4 separate regions of the Homo sapiens genome follow, and regions 1, 3 and 4 are each linked to region 2. Evidence: fine-mapped expression QTL. A gene starts in region 2. Each other region holds a variant in brackets. All regions are shown on one strand. Distances are from middle to middle. Region 1 has its middle 19 kb from the start of ASB17. Region 2 holds the start of MSH4 (mutS homolog 4). Region 3 overlaps ACADM (acyl-CoA dehydrogenase medium chain). Region 4 overlaps LOC105378806 (a long non-coding RNA gene).

Region 1 (5,154 bases), 160 kb after region 2:
TTTGCCCTGGCATGCTTATACTGGTCCAAGCAAACATTAGGTCATATAGCCTGTTCCTCTTTCTTATTTGAAGGTGTTTTTACCTTTTTCAGCATTCCACAAGTTACTTCCTCCTTCCTTTGTTCTCCTCTGCCTTTGCCTCTTTTAAAAAGCTCCAAGTTGCTAGCCAGTCGGGACAAATACAGAATGTGAGGTCTTTTTCCAGCCAATGGAAACCGGACACAGCAGTAGGGTGGATGCGTCAGTTTATAAATGACCCTGTCTCCTTTGTTTGATGTACTCTCATGGCAAAACTGCTGGCGAGTATACCCTTTCTGCAGGAAGTAAAAATGGCCTTGCTGAGTAAATTAAATTTACGTTCAAGTGCTATTTCTTTACAGCACCAGGGAACAAGCATTTCAAACACTTAATCTCCTCAAATTCCTTTTACCAGAGAGCTCCTTCTTTTAAAACTTTTTTTTATGAGATGGCTTTACTTGCTTTCACAGATTTATACTTCTAGACTTTAAAAAACTGTTTTCTTGTCCTCATCAGATAATCATTAACTACAAATTTTCATTGTTGCCAACTAAAACAATTACTGAATTGTCTCTACATTTTTATCACATTAATTCATATATACACTGATATTATATCAAATTATATCACTTATTAGGTAGCTTTATAGGCTTTTTATTTTTTCAGAGAAAAGTTGGTATTATATAAGGGTAAAATTAGTAGGCTGTTATGTATCCGTGAACCATTATTCCCAATGTTAAATAATACTAAAATTATTTTCCTTTAGATGAAAAGAGATGACTTCAGTGACTTTTATAATTCAGTGTGAAGCTAGCTTGAAGCTAGCTTTAAATGCAACTCAATGTGATGTGCCTGCCTGAGGCAACTGACATTTCAGATTGTGATTCTTTTCACCCCCAAAGCAAGAAGGTCTGCTCTTTTCTGTAGTTAGAGCTATTTTAATGAAGTTAATTTAAGAGGTCAGAATCCAACTTGTGACTTCTCAGATTCTTTCATTTGCATTACAAATCATTTAAGGGAAAAAGGAGCAACTGACTAAAATATATTGGAGAAGGACTAGAGTAAAACATTATTAATGTGAACTGTTATTTTTAAAAATCTGATCATCTAGACAGAGGTAATGAAAGCCATCGGACGAAATGCTTTACAATGGAAATCAGTAAGAGTTCATTGGGGAGATTAAACTATTCACTAGAACAGAATTTTTAATCACTCTCAGTATCTGAGAATACCAGTTACATAATGCCCAAATCACATTATGAACAATGCCTTCCTGTTTTTCAGGCCAGGAGGAAAAAGAAGTGAGTCTTTATCATTTGGTTTTGTGCATCATTCTGTTGGTTAGCATAACTACGTGAATAGATGCTGGAAACCAAATACAGTAAGTCTTCATTTCATGTCCTTGATAAGGCTCTTGGAAACCTATGCAACTTTAGAAGAAACTACTTATAACAAAACCAATTTTACCATAGACTGATATATATATATATAAAGAGTTACGTTTCTAAGACACATTTCCGATCACAAAAACATACAATTTTTTTATGTTTTGATCTCCTGGGCTCAAGTGATCCTCCCAACTCAGCCTCCTAAGTAACCAAGATTACAGTTGTGCACCACCATGCCCAGCTAATTTTTAACTTTTTCTTTTTTGTAGAGATGGGGTCTCTCTCTGTTTTCCAGGCTAATCTCAAACTCCTGGCCTCCCAAAGTGCTGGGATTACAGGCATGGGCCAGCATATCGAGCCACTAAACTTTTAAATAAAGACACAAAACACTTTTAATATTAAGCATGGAAATACATGTGAACTATTCATACATTTAGGATTAATAAACACAAGCAAGATAATTATTTACCCAGTTTTTGGTGAATCAGTAAGTGATGGCAGTCATGGTTATTAAATCAAGAAACATCTCCTACTATCATGCAGTTCAAAAACTAACTGACAAACAGGGTGGGTGCTCTGTGCACTTTCATAGCTCATCATTTATTGTCATATGTCGGTATGATTACCACCTACTTTATGAATTTTTATTTGACAATAATTTGTATTCATTCATTCATTTTTCAACTTGCTTATTAGAGTTCAGGGTCTTGGGTGGCCAGAGCCTATCCTGGCAGCTCAGGGCACAAGGTGGGAGCCAATCCTGACAGGATGTCTTTCCATCACAGGGCGCACTTACCCCCACACTCATTCAGACTGACATCATTTAAATGCACCAATTCCACACACATGCACAGCTTTGGGATGTGGGAAGAAATTAGAGTGCCCAGAGAATACCCATGCAAACATGGGGAGAATGTGCAAACTTCACACAGACAGTGGCCCCAGCTTGGAATTGATTTTTTTTCTCATCAGTGTTATAACAAAATGATGTTGAATGAACCATTATTCAAAGGTCTGCCATACCAATATTTATTGACTATCTAGGCAGTGTCTTGCAGAGGATATAAAGTAAAATCAATGTGTGGTATACTTTCTTAAAGCTAATTTTAGTTTAAAAATAAAATATTTTGTCAAATGAAAAGATTATTTTGTTGTGGAATATCACTGAATTTTGTCAGTTGTCATTTCAGTGCTTAAATGGGTATTGATCATGTATGTGAATTTCTAACAATTTTCTTGTACACAAATGGAGGAACAAAAGCTTACTCTCTGTT[G/A]CAAAACAGCAAGTAAGCAAACAAAACCACAAGCCAATAACTAACAGACATGCATATCTGCAGCTCCTGTCAGCTCCCTGATAAGATGAAAAGGAGTGAGAGATTTTTAGTGGTAGAGGTTTTTTTGTTTTGTTTTGTTTTGTTTTGTTTTGTTTTGTTTTGTTTTTATCTACTTAAGTTTGGGTAAGTCTATAATACTATGGGTATGTATTCATGGACAAATGATCATTCTCTTGATAATGAAAAGGACTGAATATCAGCTGTGGAGGGAAATAGAAAGACAACAATGGACCCAAGCCACGCAAGTTTTAAGTTTGTAAATACTGTACATCTCTTTTCTTGTTCCAGAATTTCATTACATTTGTATTTCTCTGGGAGGTGGTATACAATTTTATAATCAAGAGGGACAAGATAGAATCTTTTCTGCCTCCTGCTGTGGTTGCTCAGTTGTGGTTTTAATTGTTGCACCAGCAGGAAAATATATGGCTTTAATTCTAAAGGATTAAGAAGACTTGAGCAATATATGTATGCAGAAGATAGAGGCTGGTGCTCTTACTTAGGAAAACTAGTCAACCTTAACACACTCAGTAAGCAAGTTAATGAACTCCATTGGTAAAAGATAAATGAAAAGTGACATTTCTTTCCTTCTTTACTATATGGTTAGTTATTTTTATTATCCTATATAATAGGCATGATTTATATAAATAGCATTAGTCTCTAATAGTGAAATGAGCATTGTATATAGAATGAGATGAACTGGGTTTAAACATAACACTATGGTTAATTAAACGTATAATTGTATCCAAAATTACACATTTAAACTCCCTGGGTCTTTAGTTTTCTCTTTTGGAAAGTGAATATATTATAGCACATAATTTCTAAATTCGCCAGCTCATCTCTAAATTATCTAATATCTAGTCCGGATTCAACTTTCCCCAAGTGTCCTAAGATGTGTCTTTAGAGTTTTTGTAAAAATATAAAACCAATAGAAATTCACAAATTGCATTTAATTTTTTGTCTTTTTGGATTTTGAAACAGTTTTCAAACTCCTCTCATAATATTGACTCCATGATGATTATGGAATATCCTACATTCTGAATTTGTCTAATTGTTTCCTCATACTGAGATTTAACTTCTTTCTTTATCTGTTATACTTTCTTTCTTCTTTCTTTTTTTATTTTGTTTTTTGAGACGGAGTCTCACTCTGTCGCCCAGGCTGCTGTCACCCAGGCTGGAGTGCAGTGGCAGCAATTATGGCTCATTACAACCTCTGCCCCTCGGGTTCAAGTGATCCTCCTGTTCCCGGACCAAACTGAGGGTTGGGCTGCTATTTCTTGCGGCCCAATAACAAGATGCAGATGAACTGGGGAGGAAGAGAGTTTTTATTTCTGTAACCAGCTACAGGGAGAAGGCCTGGAAATTATCACCAGACCAACTGAAAATTACAAAGTTTTCCAGAGCTTATATACCTTATAAGCTATATGTCTACATGTAAGTGTGCATTAAATCTAAAGACATAAGTGATTAACTTCTTTTAATCTATCTATAACTAAGGTCTGGGTCCTGAAGACCTTCTTCTGGAGCCTCTGTAAGTTTACTTAATCTAAATGGGTCTAGGTGCTGGGGTGATTACCTTTATCTTGTCTCCTGCTAAATCATAAAGGTTTGGGACATTCCTTTAGACCCCAATAAACTTGTTTGTGGAGGCCTGGGGAGTTTCTTCAGACCCCCAATAAAACTTCTTTAATCCTAAAAGGGTTCTGTCAGGAATTCCTTTGTTATCTTGTCATGCTTCAAGGCCCAGGAAAAGCCTAAGCAAAACTCTTGGCGGGCTCTTTGTTACATTCCAGTTTGTAAAAGGGCACTGGCTCAATCACCTTTTAATGTTTAACTTAGCTACTCAGTCAGTGCTGGGACAGTTGCAATGGAAGCCTGAATTAATGAGAACTGGCCTGCCACACTCCGTCCTCAGCCTCCCAGGTAGCTGGGACTACAGGCATGCATCACCACTTCTGGCTGATGTTTGTATTTTTAGTAGAGATGGGGTTTCACAATGTTGGCCAGGCTGGTCTTGAACTCCTGACCTGAAGTGATCTGCCCGCCTCGGCGTCCCAAAGTGCTGGGATTACAGGCGTGAGACACCATGCCTGGCGTTATCTGTTATATTTTTTGTAATCTAACTTCATTAAATTCAGTGTAGCATTTTTTTACAAGATTACTTCATAGGTTATATTGAAGTATTATTTTGCATCATACCAGAAGTTACATGACATCATACTGTCCCAGCATTAGTGAAGCAAAGTTTGATCCTTCTTTAAGGTAGTGACTACCAGATCACTCCATTTTTTTTCCATCCAACTCATATATTTTATACTTCCTTGACTTTCAATGTCATTTCAGGACATTTTATTACTGTACTCTTGGATTTCCTAAACATACATTCATCCTATCAGTAGCTGCTGGCTAAGTCTTCT
Region 2 (5,154 bases):
CCCACTTTTAAATTGTTCTCAAAATTAGGGAAATAAAAGAGAATGAAATTGTGGCAACTTTTTTCCCTCCTAGTTACCAGATGTATGCTACTCATGGTGGGTCCTGGCTTCCCTAAAGATAATTGGAAGACTTCATTGGATTGATAGAGAGAAACTGCGTAATTTCATTTTAGCATGTCAAGATGAAGAAACGGGGGGATTTGCAGACAGGCCAGGAGATATGGCAAGTAATATTTCTGACATATTTCTATAAATTATTTCAGCGTTTGCATTACTTCATGGTTCCATGGATTTCCAGGGTGGCATTCCGAGTGTTGCTTTGAAAGCAGTTTTTTTTTCTATTTATTGTAGAGTGTATGAAGGATATAGAACAATCTTACAGAAATTTCTTGTCGCTTGTTGCTAACAAAATTAGTATATGGTAAAGGTCAGGTATTCATAATTTGAAGTTAAAGAAGTTTTCATTTTGTGATCTGTATATAAATTCTTTTTTAAATAGGTGGATCCTTTTCATACCTTATTTGGAATTGCTGGATTGTCACTTTTGGGAGAAGAACAGATTAAACCTGTTAATCCTGTCTTTTGCATGCCTGAAGAAGTGCTTCAGAGAGTGAATGTTCAGCCTGAGCTAGTGAGCTAGATTCATTGAATTGAAAGTTGCATAGTATAGTTTTGCCATTTTAACATTTCTGTATTTGAAGTGCTTATCGAATCTAAAAGTGACTACTGTTAATATTTTGTATATTGTGTTAAATTAATTTTAATAAATTATATAATTATACATATTGTAAAATAAAGACCGGTATTTTATTTTCTGCTTTTTATTCTGAAGTCCTGTTATTCTGACTACAGTTCTTTGTGTATACTTCTGTGTCTGTTATGTTCAATAACTGAGCTAACATAAAATAACTCTAGGTTTCTACTTGATTTTTCCCCCATGTATACCTTTCATCTGTTCTATAGCAAGTTGATGTAAATTGGTTTGTCAACAAGAATGTTAACTGATGAAAGTGGATAGAACCCATACATGAATTAAATGATGCACAAAATAAATGGCTGTTGAAATTTGGAAATGATTGATAGGTTTGAATATGGTTATTCTGAATTGGTCACAGACTTAGGTTAAATGGCAATCTACCATCTTAAAATGGGGTTGTGATTCGGACTGTCCTTTTTTTTTTTTTTTTTTTTTTTTTTTTTAGCATTTTATATATCAGAATTACCCAAAGAAGGAGTTGTCTTCAAATAAGGAAACACTAACGGGTAAGTTGATGGTCACCACAGTATTTTTTTGCACCTGTCTTTTTCTTAAAAAGCTAAAATGGGTACAATCACTCTTTTTTATTTTTTTGTGACAGAATCTCTGTTGCCCAGGCTGGAGCGCAGCAGCACGATCTCAGCTTAACTGCAACCTCCGTCTGCCGGGTTTAAGCAATTCAGCCGCAGCCTCTCGAGTAGCTGGGACTACAGCCGCACACCACCATGCCCGGCTAATTTTTATGTTACTTTAGTACAGACAGGGTTTCACCATGCTGAGGAGCTGGAGACCAGCCTGACCTTGTGATCCACCCACCTCGGCCTCCCAAAGTGCTGGGATTACAGGCGTGAGCCACCACGCCTGGCCTAAAATGAGTACAATCACTCTAGGGGTTTACAGTTTTGGTGAAAGTGAGGTATTCTCTATTTTTAAATTTTATTTTTTAGAGACAGGGTCTTCCTTTCTTCCCCAGGCTGGGGCATAGTAGTGCAATCACAGCTCACTGTAACCTTAAACTCCTGGGCTCAAGCAGTCCTTCCACCTCAGCCTCCTGAGTACCAGGGTCTACAGGTACCTGCCACCATGCCCACTATGCCCAGCTGATTTCTTAATTTTGGGGACAGGCACTGTCTTCCCCAGGCTGGTCTCCGGAGGTGAAGTAATCCTCTGGCCTCAGTCTCCCAAAGTACTGGGATTACAGGGAGGAGCCATCGTGCCCGATCTGAAAATAAGGTTTTTTGATGGAAATTGAGATTTTTCTCAAGTATGTTTGGAATGCCCTGTGCAATAATCATTCCAAGAACAGAGATGTTCTTAAGGACTGTTGTCACTGCATGTGGGTAAACCGCTGTGCATAACTGGTTTATTGAGATACTCAACAGTGGCAGGATTTCAGTAGTGGTGTAAATTAATGTCTTCTAATAGCTTCTGTATGGCAGTATCCAGATAATTTCGTCATGTTTAATCCATGGATCTCTGGTAAGTTGGTACTATTGGCCTTATTTAAGGAATTTTCTAAAGGTCACCACTGCAAAGCTGGAGTTTGAACTTCTAGTGTGCCATTAACTGATTTATATGTTAGAAACCACAGTACTAGAAATTGGTAGATGGGGAATTGTTAACTGAGAGATCTTACCCAGTCAGTCTTTCCCTGTTTCCTACTCTACTATGCACACAGCCATGTGCATACTATCTTTTGATAATATAACTATCTTTCCTATATTTGGTCACAAGATCAACCTTAGGTGGGTTATGCTGTGTGAGCATTACACGTTCTCATTGTGTCAAAGGCACTGGGTGTACTGTGTTGGGTGGTTTCTACATTTAAAGATAAGCTAGTGTGCTTGGACGTGTGGGAAATGCATGTAACATTTGCAATAAGGGAGATTGGGTGCTGTGAGAATAATGGGGCTAACAAATCGGGTGGTCATTGATGGGCCTTGCAGAGTTCTGGTCAGTCTGATACCTGCAGGCTGAGGATGTTCCAGTGAGGTTCATGTGGAAAGTGATGGGTTTGGGAATGGCTGGAAGCAGGGTCATAGACCTGAAGTACGTGAATCCATGTGGAAAGCTGAGCCTGCCTGCGCCTGCGCAGTGCAGCTTAGTGCGTCGGCGCGCAGTTCTCCCGCCCGTTTCAGCGGCGCAGCTTCTGTAGTTGGGCTACTGGAGGGGTCGCTCAGAAACCTCATACTTCTCGGGTCAGGGAAGGTTTGGGAGGATGCTGAGGCCTGAGATCTCATCAACCTCGCCTTCTGCCCCGGCGGTTTCCCCGTCGTCGGGAGAAACCCGCTCACCTCAGGGTCCCCGCTACAATTTCGGACTCCAGGAGACTCCACAGAGCCGCCCTTCGGTCCAGGTGGTCTCTGCATCCACCTGTCCTGGCACGTCAGGAGCTGCGGGCGACCGGAGCAGCAGCAGCAGCAGCCTTCCCTGCCCCGCGCCAAACTCCCGGCCAGCTCAAGGCAAGGAGTGATTGGGTGGAGGAGTCTCCTTGAGGCTAGAGGCCGGCAGTTCATGGAGGCTCGGGGGCACGTGGGTGGTGGTTACCACAGTGAAGTTGTGATTTGGTTGGGGCGTGAGATCTGAGTGCCCTGGGAATTTGGTGAGTCTGGGTGATTAGAAGCCTTGACTTTTCAAATTGGTTCTATTGCAAGACCTTGACTGTGGATGGCTCAGTTCTGAGAAAGGCTGAAGTATCCCATATAACGTCCCTCACAGTGTCTGACAAATGACAGTTTGTGCGTGAGTTTGCTGATAGAAGTTGTGAGCTGATCTTTGGCTGCTGAATTTAATTCTCCAAATCCTGCTAAGGTGGGATAAAATAGATTAAATTGAACATTTCATCTAATTCAGGGAAAATAATATGTTTAGTATTAAAAGAGTGGGCTGGGCGGTGGCTGACGCCTGTAATCCCAGCACTTTGGGAAACCAGGGTGGGCGGATCACTTGAGGCCGGGAGTTCCACACCAGCCTGGCCAACATGGTGAACCTCCCACCCCCATCCCCTATCTCTACTAAAAGTACAAAAATTATCTGGGTGTGGTGGCACGTGACTGTGGTCCCAGCTACTCAGGAGGTTGAGGTGGGAGGATGGCGAGTCCGGGAGGTCGAGGCTGCCGTGAGCTGAGATTGCGCCACTGCATTTCAGCCTGGGTGACACAGTGAGACCCTGACTCAAAACAAACAAACAAAAAAGATGCATGTCCTTCAAATCATTTATTATTTTGTTAGTCTCTATTCATGACAAAGCATCACCATTTTTCACACACGATTGCAACACAATGGTAAAGTAACAAATACCAAATCCAATGGTCATTTTTCAGTTCATCTCATGTGACCTTTCTGCTGTATTTAATGTTCTTAATTTCTTTATTTTTAGAAACAGAGTCTCGCTATGCTGCCCATGCTGGTCTCAAACTCCTGGTCTCAAGTGCTCCTGCCTCGGTCTGCCCAAGCATTGGGATTACAGGCATGAGCCACTGCTGCCTGGCCTATGTTTAATGTTCTTGACTGGTCTTCTCTTAAACTCTTTTAATTTGGCTTCCTTGATTCCACTTGCCCCTGTTTTTCTGCTACCTCCCAGAGAATTGCTGTGCCCACCTTTGTTCCCAAATTATGGGCATGTCATTAAAGCTTTTTTTCCTAGGCCACTTCTACCTAGATGTGACTATCTCCACAGCTCAGATCTCATCTACACTCCAGACTTACTTCAGACTGTCTTCTGAAGTTTTTATTGATGGACTAATGGATACCTCAGGCTGACTATATGATTAATTAAATTCCTCTCTGCACTTTTTTTTTTTTTTTGAGACAGAGTCTTGCTCTGTTGCCCAGGCTGGAGTGCAGTGGCATGGTCATGACTCACTGCAGCCTCAAATTCCTGGGCTCAAGCGATCCTCCCACCTCAGCCTCCCGAGTAGCTGGGACCAAGGCATGTGCCCCTACAGATGGCTAATTTAAAAAATTTTTTTGTAGAGACAGTGTTTTCCTACGTTGCCCAGCCTGGTCTCGAACTTCTAGGCTCAAGCGATCCTCCTACCTCAGCCTCCCAAAATGCTGGGATTACAGGTGTGAGCCACTGCACCTAGCCCTCAAACTCTTAAGTGTTCTTCCATCCTTGTAGCTTACTTACTGTACCACCAGAGTTATGTGGAAAATGATCTTATCATGTCCCTTGCCACTTAAATCAGTAGACCTGTATCTGCAGGTAAAAGATCAAACTCTCTAGAAGGATAGCCAAAGCAATTGGGATCGGTTTCTAATCTTTACAGATTTATCCCTCATCATTTAATATTTACCCTGCTTTCTAACAAAACTGAGCTACTTGCAATTCCTTTAAAGCAACATGAATGTTCACATTGTCAGTCTAATCCCTCTCTTCATCAGATGCTTGGTCA
Region 3 (5,154 bases), 57 kb before region 2:
TACTTCCTTATTGTAGTGCCTACCACATTTTTAAATATGTAATTGTGTTTTTAACAGTTAGCCCCCATTATATACATGTAGTTTTATGTACATCTTTATTTAACAACATGAACATTTTCTTATGCCTTCCTTCTTTTTACATGCTGTAACAATACTGCATAATTTGCTATCTAATGGATATGCTATAAATTGTTTCACTTTTCTGTACTGTTGAATGTTTAAACTCCTTGGGTTTTTACTTTGGAAAATAATGTTATGGTAAAAAATAATACAGAAAAAAAATAAATAAAAATGATCAAATAAGAAGCCAAGAACAGGCCAGGCATGGTGGCTCATGCCTGTAATCTTAACACTTTGGGAAGCCAAGGCAGGAGGATCGCTTGAGGCCAGGAGTTCAAGACCAGCCTGGACAACGTTGAGAGACTGCCACCACACACACACACAAATATATATATATATATATATATATATATATATATATATATATATATATGAAACCAAAAAGAAGAAAAGAAGACAAAAACAACTCTGAGGAACCAGTAGTGACAAGCCATTTTGTATAGAAAAAAACAGGCTCATTTACTTCACAGGCTCTAAAAACTTCACTGTATTATGAAACAGACAGATGTCTAATAGCATATTTCAGGGAAAAAAATACCTTAAAGGTGGTTAAAACAAAATTTTGGTACTTAAAAGGGGCATCTTTTATGGACAACTCCTTAATTTGTCATGATGCTGAATACATCAAATCTCCAGGTAGCAGAGTAATCTAGTTCAGTTAACTTGAGTGACACCTGAATCCCCTCTACAGAATCCCTGTCAAAAGACCATCTGGCTGACATGTTTTTATACCTCAGGTGCCTGGGAATCAACACCTTCTGAAACAGCATCATTTGCGAGCATCTGTTATCATTAGAAAAATATTTTGGATTACATAATGCTTAAGCACAGAACCTGTCATTTTTTTTTTTATAATTTTACCAGTTCATACTGTAATAGGTGTTCAATAAATGTTAGAGTGATTTCACTGTACTTTTCTTTGGCTATATTGCCCTTCAGATGTTTGAGTATAGTTATATTTATTTATTTATTTATTTTTTGAGACGGAGTCTCGCTCTGTTGCCCAGGTCGGAGTGCAGTGGTGTGATCTTGGCCCACTGCAACCTCTGCCTCCCAGGTTCAAGCGATTCTCCTGCCTCAGCCTCCCAAGCAGCTGGGACTACAGGTGCGTGCCACCACGCCTGCCTAATTTTTTGTATGTTTAGTAGAGACAAGATTTCACTGTGTTAGCCAGGATGGTCTCTATCTCCTGACCTCATGATCTGCCCACCTTGGCCTCCCAATGTGCTGGAATTACAGGTGTGAGCCACCATGCCCAGCCAAGTATTGTTATTATTTTTTTTTTCTGAAATGGAGTCTCGCTCTGTTGCCTAGGCTGGAGTGCAGTGGCACCATCTCGGCTCACTGCAACCTCCACCTCCCAGGTTCAAGCAATTCTTCCTCAGCCTCCCAAGTAGCTGGGATTACAGGCGCCCGCCACCAAGCCTGGCTAAGTTTTTGTATTTTTAGTAGAGACAGGGTTTCACCATGTTGGCCAGGCTGGTCTCGAACTCCTAACCTCAGGTGACCCACCTGCCTCGGCCTCCCAAAGTGCTGGGATTACAAACCTGAAGCCTCAGCCACCACGCCCGGCCCTAAGTAATCATTTCTAGTGCCCCTATATATGCTTACTACTTTGAATTAAAATGTATATAGTTTCTTTCTTTTTTGTTGTATATTTTTAAAAAATAAATTGACATGGGTTCTCGGCATGTTGACCAGGCTGGTCTTGAACTCCTGGTCTCAAGCGATCCTCCCATCTCAGCCTCACAAAATGCTAGGATTACAGGTGGGGGGCCACCATGCTCGGCCCAGTTTCTTTCTTCTTTGGACTGTAAGTACCTTAAGGGCAAGTAACTTGTTTCTTTAGTATCCACAGTACC[G/C]GCCACTCTTGAATTAACTTGCACTAACACTTGCCTTCTACCACCCCCTTTTATCCATTACTGCTTGTGTCTTGTCACTCCTCTGTTTAAGAGCTCTAAGAGGCTCCCCTGTTTCTACCAGATAAAATTTTAAATTTGTAATGTGATATAAAAGATTCTCGTCGACCATTTCCTTCCTTTCTTTCCAGACTCATGTCTTACCATTCCCTTACATGCACAGAATTTACATACTGTGGAACTCTGGTACTTTCAGCATTAGAAACACTGGGTAACTCTGTTTCTTATCTTAGTGTCATAGCATATGCCATTACTTGTACCTGGAATGCATATTCTTCCTCTTTTTCCCTCCTCGCAAAGAAGCCATTTTCCTTTTTGAGACTTAATTTAAACATCCTCTGCCCTGGGAAACTAGTTTCTCAAGCCCCTTGTCTGACTTTCACACATAGAGTTGCAGTATAGTTATTTATCTTCACTGTTACATTGTGAAAATCTCTAGGACTGAATGTCTTTTACCTCTGGTTTCCCCATATCCTAATTTACATCGTGGTACATAGTAGATATTCAATACATGTTTGCATGAATGAATACATGTGAAATTGAATTTAATGAACTTGTTTAAAGCTATCTAACATTTTCACTTTTTATTAAATATATGATTTGTTGATATACCTATGCCTAATTTGAATTATATATTAAGTGTTTTTAGGCCAGGCACTGTGGCTCATACCTGTAGTCCCAGCACTTTGGGAGGCTGAGGCAGAGGATTGCCTGAGCCCAGGAGGTTGAGACCAGCCTAGGCAACACAGTGAGATGCCATGTCTACAAAAAATTTAAAATTAGCTGGGCATGGTGATGTGTGCTTGCAGTCTCAGCTATTATACACGGGAGGCTGAGGCGGGAGGATTTCCTGAGTCCAGGAAGCCAAGACTGCATTGAGCCTCTGCATTCCAGCCTGGGCAAGAGAGTGAGACCCTGTCTCTTACAAACAAAACAGAAAAGTTTTTACATTTGAGTGGTTTCTTTGATTTTGTAAGAACATTTTAATTTTAGATATTTAAAAATATTTAAAATACAGCTTAAAAAATAAAACAATCCTGTTTCCAAACAGTCAAAATTTAATCACTAACATTTAATTTCATTTCTCTTGTTTTTATATATTCAAGGCTTATTGTGTAACAGAACCTGGAGCAGGCTCTGATGTAGCTGGTATAAAGACCAAAGCAGAAAAGAAAGGAGATGAGTATATTATTAATGGTCAGAAGATGTGGATAACCAACGGAGGAAAAGCTAATTGGTATGTTGTTCAAAACATCTTTGTATATTTTTTCTTAATTGTTTTATCTTCAAATCTCTCTTTCTTTCTGTATATTTTTAAACCACTACAGTTAAGGTATGTTTGTGGAACTGGAAGGCCTAAAGGAGATTATAAACAGTTCAGTGATTTTCAAAAACTAATTTTAAGCCCCTGCACTGTTTTTTCAAATTAACTCTCAGAAGTTTAATGTGTAAAATAAAATACAAATGCGTGCTCTGTTTGAATCTGATTAGGAAGGCTAGCACTCTGTCTACTTGGCTTATTATCTCCACTCCTCATCTCCTATACCAGCCGCTCCTTGGAATCCCTAAAACCCTAAGGAAAAAGGAGAACCTTTGGTATAGTGCCTGTCTCCAGATGTCAGAAATAAACAGAGTCAGTCTTAAAACAGGTTATCTATTAGAGAAGACAGAATTTGACTTTAATAAAATCTGAAATTTTCTAATATATGGTCAAAAAATATGAAGTTCAACAAAGGATCAAAAATAATTTGTATAAATATAAAATACTAAAAAAAAACACTCGATTATTTGTTGATAAAAGATGAGGAAAGTTCAATAACTGTTAAGTTCAATAAGAATCAATAGTATGAGCCTTTAAAAAGCCAATGTAATTTTAAGCCAAAGTAATAGAAGTACAGCATCAAATAGAGAAAAAATGGTGACAGTTCTGGGCAACACATTTTAAAACATGTATTGAAAAACTTGACTAAATCTAGAAGCATGTAAGTATCTTGCATTAGGAGGAGCCTACAAAACATGTTCTGAAAAGCAAAGCCTTGGTTATTTTGGAAGAATCTTGAAGTTTTTCAAATATTATTACACAGAAAGATGATCAGGCTTATATGTTTACTTCAGGATGCCAGCTTAGAATTAATGAGTGAAAGTTAGAAAAATGTAGAATTTAGCTTAACATAAGGACAGGCTTTCTATCAGCAGTGCTGTTAAGTTGTCATGGGAAATACTGTATTTACCCATCACTACAAGTATATAGAGAGTTTCTAGAATAACTTTTTATTGATTGGAATAATGTACTAAATGACCTGTCTCTCTTTGTAAAAAATTCAGATTCAATATATTTGTGTGCCATATACTACAGTTTTCTAGCAAATAAAACATCATTTTTTTTCAGAGTGAGCCTACTAAAAAGTTACTTAGATTAAACATATCAGTCAATTCCTTATGAGCATCCTAAATATATTCAGTATTATGGAGTGCTATATCTTTACCTTTAACCAATTCCTGGTAATATCAGCAACTAATAAAAAGTGAAGAAACTATTAAAATTTAACAAGTTGAGAGAAATCTAACAATGCAGTTTGAAGTTTTCGTAATTTTAAAAACGGATTAGCCAGGTGCAATCACTCACGTCTACAATCCCAGCAGTTTTGGAGGCTGAGGCAGGAGGATTGCTTGAGCCCAGGGGTTCAAGACCAGCTTGGGCAACATAACGAGACCCCATCTTTACAAAATTAAAACAAAAAGAAAGAACTGATTACAACTGTTCACTGTTCATATAGTAAGGCAAATTAGGTAATATATGAAACCAGATAACAATTTTTACGATTTTGTTACTATTATTAAATAAAACTATAGAATGAGTGGTAATGTATTGGTTTTAACCAAAGAAAATAAGTTTGTGTTGTTTAGGGAAGAATATACCTTTTTAAAAGAATTTTTCGTGTACCAGGATATATAGAACATGAATTAGACAGATGCTTGGATATTTGCATTTTTTTCTTATGTTGCACTTCAAGATCTTTCTGAGAAATTCTTCTGTAGGAAAAAATCAGCAAATATTCATAATAACTCAGCTATAACAAAAACACTGACTTGCTGCATAAAGAAACAGTAGTTG
Region 4 (5,154 bases), 190 kb after region 2:
GTCTTGGGGACAAAATAGGTATTGTAATCGATTAGTATGACTTTGAGTCATCAGGTTTGAAGTGCGGCCAAGGTCGTGGGAGCCTATAGGTGGTATCCACCAGGAAAGAAGACAGCCAAGCAGCAGCTGCTGATGAGGGATGGCTGTGGAAATAGTGAGGTAGGGGAACCTTCCAATGAAACTCAGCAGCAAAGACCCATAGTCAGAAATAGGTTAATAACAGGCGGCTACTGAAAAATACGGGTCAGAGAGTTCAGAGGATGAGTCAAAAAACGGGTTCCAGGAACCTAGAATAAGAGGAGGGAGTGAAACTGGAAAGATACCCGCTTGCCTATGGGGGCCAACCAAGGGTTCCCCGACTTTGGTCTTTCCTCCTTTGTGTATCAGACTCTGCCTGTGATTTCTAAGGGTACATGGGCTCAGCCTCTTGCACCCTGAGGGACTCATACAGCTGATAAACAGAAAATCACTTTATTGAAAACAAATATATTTGTTTCAGGTAGTATTCTGTTCCATTCCAGTCCAAAATACTAATATACTGACTGTTAATGACCAAAGTAATGTATTATTATTATTTTATTTATTTATTTATTTATTTATTTATTTATTTATTTATTTATTTCTGAGACGGAGTCTTGCTCTTTCACCCAGGCCGGAGTGCAGTGGCGCTATCTCGGCTCACTGCAAGCTCCGCCTCCCGGGTTCACGCCATTCTCCTGCCTCAGCCTCCCGAGTAGCTGGGACTACAGGCGCCCGCCACGACACCCGGCTAATTTTTTGTATTTTTAGTAGAGACGGGGTTTCACTGTGTTAGCCAGGATGGTCTCCATCTCCTGACCTCGTGATCCGCCCTCCTCGGCCTCCCAAAGTGCTGGGATTACAGGCGTGAGCCACCGCGCCTGGCATATTATTTATGTAAACAGTATAGGCACAAGAACAATTAAAATTTAAAATTAGGTAATACATGTTATTGGGTAACCACTGTAGACCAGCTCCAGGTAAGATAATGGATCAAACCAGCCCTCTCCCAATAGATATTACATAGTATTATTGGACTCCCCAGGAAACTTGCTGCTCTTTTTCTCCTTCTGTACAGCTCCATACCTTTCACAAGCGGGAGGAGTTTTAAGTCATGTATTAGGTACATGACTCACATGTCTTGTCTTTTGCATGAGATTTTTGAATACTCCTTGTATAACCATGGTTACACTGATCAAGCTCAGTCCCCTTCTCTGTCTCTTCTTCCCTTCCCTCTTGATCTCTCTCACTTGCCCGTCCTGCTATCTCCTTCTGCCAGCATCCACCTTATCTGCCCCTCTTACTTTTCTTGCATTTCTCTTCTTGTTGTTTTCCTGTTTCTCTGATTGACTGATAACTAGTTTCTGTTTGCTTGCTGGACTTTAGAGTTCATTCACATCCTGTGTGTGTCTCTCTCTGTTTTTGTTTCTTTGACGAGAAAAGCAGACCCTTAAGTCTCCAAGGAATTGGAGCTATAGAGGTTAGAACTCTCACTTCGGCCTGAGGACAGCTTACCCTTTCGTTCACCTTTTGTAGGGGATAGGGATCTCCCTCTTTCCTACGGTTTTGGTGGCCTTTGGCTGGAAGTTTGGAGAATTAGGCTACAGCTATCAAATTAGTTATGTTTTGAGCTGTTTTGGCTCATCATTCTTATGTGTGCACCAGCCCCAATGCCCTGTCAACAGGTGAAGCCATGGAGTCAGTAAGAGACCAGGGTGTAGGTGTCTGAGAATTATTCCAACCAGCTGGGCCAATGAGACACATAGTTTGTATAAGAATAAACAAAAGAGACAAAAATAGCTTGAGAAAGACTAGGCAGAACTGTGAAGTTACTATAGCAAGAATCTATATAGAAAGAGAAAGGAATTTTACTTTGAAGATATTTTGTGGCCATCTGAGCAGAAGCTGCTCACGTATTCCTTCCATTTGTGAACTAGAAGTGACCTTAATGACAGTTGATAGGAACAGCTCCTTATTCACAGGAATTAAATAAAGGGAAGCTGTAAGTGTTCCAAGTGCAAGCGTGTGGCTCAAATAAGCCCAGGTCTTAGCTGCCTGTGTGTTGAATGAGGTTGTATTAATATTAATTCCCAAATCTCAGTGGTTCCACACCATGCTGGATGCTTCCTTCTGCTCCTCTTCCCCTTGGACCTCAGACTCCAGGTTCTTCAGCCTTTGGA[C/T]TCTGGGACTTGCACCAATGGCTTGCTGGGGGCTCTTGGGCCTTTGGCCATGGACTGAAGGCTGCACTATCAACTTCCCTAGTTTTAAGTCTTTCTGACTTTCACTGAGCCACTACTGGCTTCTCTTCCCCAGCTTGCAGACAGCCTATCGTGGGACTTGACCTTGTGATTGTGTGAGCCAATTCTCCCTAATAAACTCCCTTCCATATATACATATATTTTATTAGTTTTGCCCCTCTGGAGAACCCTGACTAATACAATGAGAATCTCCCTGCCTGGGCAGAACATTGGGCAGGCTTTTTGTATGAGTGGAGCCACTGCTTACTTCCATGGTCAAGCAGGCCTGGTCACTACACTTCTCCAAAATGGGCAGAGGTGAGTATCATTGTGCCTGGGCAGGGTAACTGGGGAGGTCTCTGAGGCTGGGTATGGAGACTAGCTGTCTAGTCACTCAAGCTAGATTAACTTCTTGTTATGCTTCTGAAGGTCACCAGTTCAGCTTTGCAGATAGGCTATGAAGTTGATGGATATCTCTGATTGGGCACCCCAGCTGGTAGGAACACAGGTATTACCAAGATCTGCATGCTAGTCACTATGACCTCTACTTCCTTTCTTTGTTCCTACTTAACCCTGGGTGGTCTAGCCATTATTGCTACCTACAGTGTATCCCATAAGGTGAGACCAGAATGAATTTCCTGGAATACATCTCAGAATGCTAGGAAAGCTGGATGACTGCCTCTAGTCCTCTTTTCTCCCTGTATAAACTGTGGGCCCAAGCCATCTTCTCAGTCTGGTGTTGTGCAGGAGGAGGGAAAGGGGTGTCATGCTCAATTTGAGGCCATTCTTTTTAAACTTTGATTTCAGTTTTCATGCAGTTATGTGAAACATGGAATCTCAGGCTTGTATTCAAGTATTGGGGTTTTCAAAAAAGTATTCTGATCTGTCGGTAGTTGCTAGTTAAACATTGGGTGGGGAAGCAATGGAGCCTAAGACCTATTCTGTTTCTTGCTGGTGTCACTAAGGAGACTTTAAATGACTTGCACTGACTATACCCTCTTCTCAGGATGTACATGAGAAAAGAATGTAATTATTTTCAAAGAATGACAAGAAAATTATATTTCTTATTTCCAATCTTTATTATTTCTTTTCCTACCATCAGCTTAGAAGTCCTTCCTTCATAAGAACAAAACAAACCAAAAAAAGAGCTTAACTTCAATCATGACATTTTTTGCAGCTGCAGCTCCTGTTCCACTTCCTTTCTTGTACTGCTGAACATCCAGATAGAGGCATTGACATGCATGGTTTCCAACTGATCACTTCCTACTCCCTTAAGGACCTCCTGTCAGGCAGGTATGGTGGTAATGAATTCCCTTAGCATTTCTTTTCCTTAAAAGGATTTTATTTCTCCTTCACTTATGAAGTTTAATTTGGCTGGATATGAAATTCTTGGTTGGAATTTATTTTCTTTAAAGATGCTGAATATAGGCCAGGCGTGGTGGCTCATGCCTGTAATCCCAGCACTTTAGGAGGCCGAGGCAGGCAGATCACGAGGTCAGGAGATGGAGACCATCCTAGCTAACACGGTGAAACCCCATCTCTACTAAAAATACAAAAAATTAGCTGGGCATGGTGGCAGGCACCTGTAGTCCCAGCTACTCAGGAGGCTGAGGCAGGAGAATGGCATGAACACAGGAGGCAGAGCTTGCGGTGAGCCGAGATTGCGCAACTGCACTCCAGCCTGGGAGACAGAGTGAGACTCCGTCAAAAAAAAAAAGATGCTGAATATAGGCTTCCAATCTCTTCTGGCTTGTGGAGTTTACTCTGAATAGTCAGCTGTCAGTCTGATGGAGCAGGTGACCTGCTCCTTCTCTTTAGCTGCCCTTAACATTTTTTTCTTTCATTTCCACCTTGGAGAATCTGATGACTTTGTATCTTGTGGATGGCCGTCTTGTTTAGTATGTCACAGGGATTCTCTGAGTTTCTTGGATTTGAATGTCAATCTCTCTAGTGAGGTTGCGGAAATTTTCATGGATAATACTTTCAAATATGCTTTCCAAGTTGCTTGTTCGCTCTTCCTCTCTTTCAAGTGTACCAATTTGTAGATTTGTTCTCTTTAAATAATCCCATATTTCTCAGAGGTTTTGTTCATTCATTATTCCTTTTTCTTTATTTTTGTCTGACTGAGTTGATGTGAAAACTGATCTTTGAGCTCTCAGATTCTTTCTTCAGCTTGGTTTATTCTGCCATTAATACTTCTGATTGTATTATGAAAATCTTATAGTGAGTTTTTCAGCTCTATCAGATCAGTTTGGTACTTTCTTTAAAATGGCTCTTTCATCTTTTAGCTCTTGTAATGTTTTACTGGATTCCTTAGATTTCTTGGATTGGTTTTCACCTTTCTCCTGAATCTCATGATCTTCATTGCCATTCTGTATGGAATTCTATGTCTGTCATTTCAGCCATTTCAACCTGGTTAAGAACCATTCCTGGGGAGCTAGCATGGTTATTTGGAAGTAAGAAGACACTGTGGCTTTTAGAGTCACCAGAGCTCTTTATATTCTCTGATGCTCTTAAGGGTTTGACTGTGGTGTAAGTTGGATTCAGTTGATTGGCTTTATTTCTGGACAATTTCAGGGGGCCAAGACTCAGCTCAGGACTCCAGTGCTGCATGCGCTAACTTTGGGAAGTTGGGACCAGGCCCATGGCTTTGTTCTCTGGCCACTTGAGGTTAAGCACCTGCTCTGCTTGAGGGGCTGAGGTATTCCTGGTCCACTGCCAACAACAGTCCAATGGGCAGGGGTGGGGGGTGCTGGCAAAAGCACTTGATTGGGATGGCAAGGTCTGCTCATGTGCATGCACTGCTAAGGCAACTGGGGGAGGTTACAGATAGGTGCATGCCGGGGTTGCGGGGGGCACTGTCTGCAGGAGCTCTCTGATGGTTTGTGGAGTCTACCAG

The links. PIP is the estimated chance that this variant, and not a neighbour inherited with it, causes the effect.
Region 1: its variant is the best candidate, but not a certain one, in a credible set for the expression of MSH4 in prefrontal cortex (GTEx, PIP 0.69).
Region 3: its variant is the best candidate, but not a certain one, in a credible set for the expression of MSH4 in sigmoid colon (GTEx, PIP 0.74).
Region 4: its variant is the best candidate, but not a certain one, in a credible set for the expression of MSH4 in testis (GTEx, PIP 0.84).

What each region holds. Positions count from the first base shown.
Region 1 is chr1:75,949,075-75,954,228 of GRCh38, forward strand. No RefSeq gene overlaps it. Among named protein-coding and RNA genes, the nearest start is that of ASB17, 19 kb to the left of the region's middle. The variant G/A (reference allele first, on the strand shown) is at 2,681.
Region 2 is chr1:75,794,011-75,799,164 of GRCh38, forward strand. It overlaps MSH4 (mutS homolog 4), which reads left to right and starts at 2,872. Exons shown (of 20, transcript NM_002440.4): 1 at 2,872-3,219. The coding sequence starts at 2,976. It overlaps RABGGTB (Rab geranylgeranyltransferase subunit beta), which reads left to right. Exons shown (of 9, transcript NM_004582.4): 8 at 74-223; 9 at 500-1,076. The coding sequence ends at 640.
Region 3 is chr1:75,736,835-75,741,988 of GRCh38, forward strand. It overlaps ACADM (acyl-CoA dehydrogenase medium chain), which reads left to right. Exons shown (of 12, transcript NM_000016.6): 7 at 3,146-3,276. Among named protein-coding and RNA genes, the nearest start is that of ACADM, 15 kb to the left of the region's middle. The variant G/C (reference allele first, on the strand shown) is at 1,983.
Region 4 is chr1:75,980,013-75,985,166 of GRCh38, forward strand. All of the region lies in intron 2 of LOC105378806 (a long non-coding RNA gene), which reads right to left. Among named protein-coding and RNA genes, the nearest start is that of ASB17, 50 kb to the left of the region's middle. RefSeq lists an enhancer at 1,692-1,751. The variant C/T (reference allele first, on the strand shown) is at 2,199.